2 separate regions of the Homo sapiens genome follow, and region 1 is linked to region 2. The links come from fine-mapping of genetic effects on gene expression. A gene starts in region 2. The other region holds a variant in brackets. All regions are shown on one strand. Distances are between the middles of the regions.

Region 1 (2,789 bases), 52 kb after region 2:
AGGGTGGGAGGGGCCCCATCCAAAGGATGCCCTGGCCAGCGAGGCTGGGTCACAGGTCAGGGAGGTCCTGGCCGTCCACAGGGTCGGCCCTCAGCTCAGCCCGCCAGGAGTCAGGGAGGAGACTCGCTGGGAGTGGGAGGGCAGCACGGGCGTGAAGGTCGGAGGACAGAGAAAGGTCAGCAGGGTCAGAGTATGTGAGGTCAGAGGGCATGAGGGTCACAGGTCAGCAAGGTGTGAGGAGCACAAGCCAGGGTGCCCCGAGGAGGAGGGTGGGTGGGTCCTTGTGTGGCCTGGCGCGCACCACAGGGCAGCACGGGAGACGTTGACACCACCGGACGAGAAAGAAAAAAGAGAGAAGAGAGAGAGGAGAAGAGAGAAAAGAAGAGAAGAGAGAAGAGAAGAGAAGGAAAGAGAGAGAGAGAATAAGAAAAGGAAGAAAGAAAAAGAAAAGATAGAATTTTATTGGTGCTGCATCCATGTGTTCTCTGCTCAGCAGCCAGGGTCTCCCACAGTCTTGAGGACCCCCACCCAGCACCCAGCCAGGCAGCCCCCTTCCTCTGCCACCTCGGGCCCCTCACCGACCTTCCCACCTCATCTCTGACTCCTCTTGGCTGTGGGTCCCCAGCTGCCCCACAGGAGCCCCCGGGACAACCCCAGGAGCCCAGCCCTCCATCTGAGGCCACCGAATTCTCCCTCTGCACCTGCACCCAGGGCTCCCGGGGAGGGGCTCGCGGCTCTGCCACAGACCCCCACCCTGCAGGGGCTGCTGCACTGGGGAGGGGCAGGCAGAGCCTTCGCTGTCTCAGGCCAGAGCCCGCAGAGGCCTTGGCCACAGTCCTTTGAGGATCAAGAGTGATGGGCCTTGGAGCCCTTGCCAGCCCAGCCCACCTGTGAGGAGGCTGCCCATCCCCTCTTTGAGGCCACCCTGTGTCCTCTCCCCTGCCTCTGCCCAGAGCTCCAGCCGGAGTGTCTTGCTGCTCAGACCCCTCCGAGGTCCAAGTCCTGTCCTGCCACTCAGCTCCCCCTGCACCCCAGAAGAAACGCAGGGTGCGGTTGCATTTGATTTCAGATAAACAACAACTTCTTAGTAAAATGACCTCCCCACTATTGCCTGTCTGAAATTAACCGAATGCCCTGTGTTCTCATCTGTGAATCTGGCCACCCTCCTACCCAGCCACCTGCCTGCCCTCCACCCACCCAGACTTTAGCACCTCCCTCCCAGGCGTGGGGAGTGGCCGTGGTCACTGGCTGGATCCTCAGGTGAGTCGGAGGGAGCAGCACCAGGACACGCCCCCCTCCTGGACGCGGTAGAAGAGAGGGGTCAGAGGGCCCGGGCGAGGGCGGCACCTCGTCCTGCCCTGGGCGCCTGTGGTCGTCTCCTCATCCTGCATCTCCCTGGCCCGGGCCTGGCTCCTAGGAGCTGGGGCTGGGGCTGTGGCTGCGGCGCCCTTGCCCC[A/G]CCTGCCGGCGGAAGTAGCGGATGGCAGAGATGGTGCCGACGTTGGCCAGCAAGGCTGCAAGAGAAGCACAGGCTCTTCTGAGGGCCAGCCTGGCTGTCGGCACCGTCTGCCCGCAAGACCCAGCCCTCAAAGGGCGGGCAAGGTCGGTGCGGCCAGGGCCGCAGCTCAGCCTGGGGGGAGCAGGTCAGGGGTGAGCCCCGGGGCCCCCGTGCACCCCTCGTCCTGCCAGCGCCCCTCGGTCTGGCTTCTAGGCGCAGCTCCCTCTGCCCCCAGGCACCCAAACCTGTTTTCCAGGCGTCTGGGGTATGCGGATCTGACGTCCTCACAGCCCAGGTGGCAAAAGCTACAAACACCAGGCACATGTCATTCTGGCTGAAGGCAAATGATGGGACAGGCCCCCGGAGCTCCCCTAGGACAGAAGCTCACCTTCAGCCCCACGGCTGCACTCAGAGATGGCCCCGCACACGCCCGCCCCGGGAACCGCCTGCCCCCACCCCCACCAACCCCGGGAACCGCCTCCCACTCCCCCCGCCAACCCCGGGAACCGCCTCCCACTCCCCCCGCCAACCCCGGGAACCGCCTCCCACTCCCCCCGCCAACCCCGGGAACCGCCTCCCACTCCCCCCGCCAACCCCGGGAACCGCCTCCCACTCCCCCCGCCAACCCCGGGAACCGCCTCCCACTCCCCCCGCCAACCCCGGGAACCGCCTCCCACTCCCCCCGCCAACCCCGGGAACCGCCTCCCACTCCCCCCGCAACCCCGGGAACCGCCTCCCACTCCCCCCGCAACCCCGGGAACCGCCTCCCGCTCCCCCCACCAACCCCGGGAACCGCCTCCCGCTCCCCCCACCAACCCCGGGAACCGCCTCCCGCTCCCCCCGCAACCCCGGGAACCGCCTCCCGCTCCCCCCACCAACCCCGGGAACCGCCTCCCGCTCCCCCCACCAACCCCGGGAACCGCCTCCCGCTCCCCCCACCAACCCCGGGAACCGCCTCCCGCTCCCCCCACCAACCCCGGGAACCGCCTCCCACCACCCCGCCAACCCCGGGAACCGCCTGCCCCCACCGACCAACCCCGGGAACCGCCTCCCACTCCCCCCGCAACCCCGGGAACCGCCTCCCGCTCCCCCCACCAACCCCGGGAACCGCCTCCCGCTCCCCCCACCAACCCCGGGAACCGCCTCCCGCTCCCCCCACCAACCCCGGGAACCGCCTCCCGCTCCCCCCACCAACCCCGGGAACCGCCTCCCGCTCCCCCCACCAACCCCGGGAACCGCCTCCCGCTCCCCCCACCAACCCCGGGAACCGCCTCCCGCTCCCCCCACCAACCCC
Region 2 (2,779 bases):
ACCAACGAGCCCCCACAGAACAGGGCCAGGATAGCGGGGGAGGCTTCTGGGCATGTTCCTTGCCTGAGCAGAGCACTCCTGGCCCAGACCTCACTCCGCGGGTTGGCTGTGGGACCAGCAGAAGCCTCTGGTGAGATAAGGTGAAGGAGCCCAGCGTGGTCACCCAGGGTCAGGTTTATGCTCAAGGAAGCTGGTCTGGCAGGAGGTGGTGGTGGGCTGTTCCCTCCCTCGAAGAAGGCACCTGTGCAAACAGGCCTGTGGCCCACTCACCCCTGGACCTGCTCTGGGAGATGCCCACAGGGACATGCCAGCTGCATCTCAAGGGCAGGGGCCAGGGTCAGAACAGGAGGCCCCTTTCTAGTGGATGCAACACCGCACAGCAGCGCAGGACAAGGCTGTCTCACCTGCTGTTACCAACGCCCCCAGGTTGTGTTTCTCTTCGGAACGCTCCAGATGCAATGCCGATCTGGGCACGCAGGGAGGTGGGGGGTGATGGGAAGCTCACCAGGAACCAGGGACTGGGGCCCAGACTGACCTGTCAGAAGGCACCAAGGTGGACGTGGTGTGGCCGGTCCTGCTTCACTAGCCTTGCTCCTCCTAGTGGGAGGCCGTGCACTCTGCCAACCCGCTATCCCCCACCCTCACCCTGCCTCGGATCCACACCACCTTCCTGCTGGGAGGTGTGGGGTGACAGGAAGCTCTTGCCCCACACCATGGTCCTGGCGCGGTCCTGGTGTGAGACATCCTGCATTTGAAACAGCTGTGTGACTTCAGGAGAGTTACTTGACCTTTCTGTCTCAGCGTCTTCTGCAAAAGACTGAACAGGAACTCCGTGGCTCGGGCGAACTCACTCCTGTCAAGTGCATAGGAAGGGGCACGAGTGGGCGGGGAGGTGCTGCCCTGTTATTCACAGAACACTTTGCCCAGGCAACACACTACAAATCCACAACCTCGCTCCCTGCAGGTGCACTGAGACCACCCACGCCCTCCCGGACACCAACGCCCACCATCAGATTCGCTGCGCAAAGTCCCAGAGCCGCCGGCGCACGCTCACACCCCGGCGAGCAGCCCCCAGCTCCCTCCCTCCGAGAGGAGCCCGGTCCGCGACCAGCCCAGCCCATCCCAGTCCCGCGCGGAGTCCTGGATTCCAGCCGCTCGCAGTGACTCGGTACTCGGGATAGTGCCGGGGGCCGCAGCCCTGTCCCGCTGCCGCCGCCGGATGCCCCGAGTCGGCCGTCACGCACCCCCCGCGGGAGCCCGCGCCGCCCGCCGCGCCGGGGCCGTTTAAATGGGCCAAGTTGTGGCGGCGGCGTCGGCGGCGGAGTCTCCCAAGTCCCCGCCGGGCGGGCGCGCGCCAGTGGACGCGGGTGCACGACTGACGCGGCCCGGGCGGCGGGGCGGGGGCTTGGGACCCCCGAGAGGGGCGGGGACTCCGCGACTCCTCGCTGCCGGGCTCGGCCTGGCGGGTGGGTCGGCGAGCCGGGCGTGGGACTGCCCCGGGCGCGGGCGCTGGTGGCCGGGGCGCGGGACTCCAGACGCCCCGGGGAGCCCCGAGGCCCTGGAACTGCGGCGCTCGGCGAGTCGATCCGGGATCGATAGCAGCTCCATGTCTCCGGCCTCTGAGGCCCCGCCGGCCGGCTGGGCAGTCCGGGGAGGCCTGGCGGGCGGCGCGTAGGCGGCGGCTGCGGGCGCCGGGGCGCACTAGCGGACGGCGTGGGCGCGCGGCCAGGCGCCTCCCCGGCCCCCGCGACCCAACTCCAGCCCGGGCCGGAATAAGTTGCTGCCGCCGGCGGAGAGCGGGGCTGCGGAGCCACCGGGGCGCCATGCCGGCGGTCAAGAAGGAGTTCCCGGGCCGCGAGGACCTGGCCCTGGCTCTGGCCACGTTCCACCCGACCCTGGCCGCGCTGCCGCTGCCGCCGCTGCCAGGCTACCTGGCGCCACTGCCCGCGGCGGCCGCCCTCCCCCCGGCCGCCTCGCTGCCCGCCTCGGCCGCCGGTTACGAGGCTCTGCTGGCCCCGCCGCTCCGCCCCCCGCGCGCCTACCTCAGCCTGCACGAGGCCGCCCCGCACCTCCACCTGCCCAGGGACCCGCTGGCCCTCGAGCGCTTCTCGGCCACCGCGGCCGCGGCCCCGGATTTCCAGCCGCTGCTGGACAACGGCGAGCCGTGCATCGAGGTGGAGTGCGGCGCCAACCGCGCGCTGCTCTACGTGCGCAAACTCTGCCAGGGCAGCAAGGGCCCGTCCATCCGCCACCGCGGCGAGTGGCTCACGCCCAACGAGTTCCAGTTCGTCAGCGGCCGCGAGACGGCCAAGGACTGGAAGCGCAGCATCCGCCACAAAGGTGCCGCCGCCCCTCCCTTCGCTGCCGGGACCCGCGGGCCCCGACCCCACCCCCTACCCGACTCGGACACCCGGGAGCCTCCGGCTCGGCCGAGGGGGCGCTGCAGCTCCAGGGCTGCGCGGGGACACCCCCGCCGCGCGCGGAGGCCTCGGTGAACACGGACAGATCGCCCCCCGCTGCACCTCCCCCCAGCTTGGGCCACAGCGCTTGGGGCTCGCGGGCCGCTCCCTCCGCTCGGAAGGTCTCTGCGAGGCTCCTGGGCCTTAAGGCCCGAAGGAAGTTTACGGGGACTCGAGAGAGCGGGCAGGAGGCGGGTTGGGAGGGCGCGGAGCCCCGGGTTCGGGGGAGACTGGAGGGGCGCACGTGCGGCCGGGTGCGAGCGCGCGGCGGGGGAGGCTGCGGGGCGGCGCGGGGGCGCGCGCGGAGCCCGAGCGGCGGC

Evidence for each region. PIP is the estimated chance that this variant, and not a neighbour inherited with it, causes the effect.
Region 1: its variant is fine-mapped to the expression of SAMD11 in caudate (GTEx, PIP 0.94).

What each region holds. Positions count from the first base shown.
Region 1 is chr1:974,759-977,547 of GRCh38, forward strand. It overlaps PLEKHN1 (pleckstrin homology domain containing N1), which reads left to right. Exons shown (of 16, transcript NM_032129.3): 16 at 1-1,107. It overlaps PERM1 (PPARGC1 and ESRR induced regulator, muscle 1), which reads right to left. Exons shown (of 4, transcript NM_001394713.1): 3 at 1,741-1,866; 4 at 440-1,511. The coding sequence ends at 1,414. Among named protein-coding and RNA genes, the nearest start is that of PERM1, 5.9 kb to the right of the region's middle. The variant A/G (reference allele first, on the strand shown) is at 1,457.
Region 2 is chr1:922,609-925,387 of GRCh38, forward strand. SAMD11 (sterile alpha motif domain containing 11) reads left to right here and starts at 1,315. Exons shown (of 14, transcript NM_001385641.1): 1 at 1,315-2,340. The coding sequence starts at 1,824. It overlaps LOC107985728 (collagen alpha-1(III) chain-like), which reads right to left. Exons shown (of 5, transcript NR_168405.1): 2 at 667-853; 3 at 405-535; 4 at 64-127. RefSeq lists enhancers at 360-938, 2,604-2,779.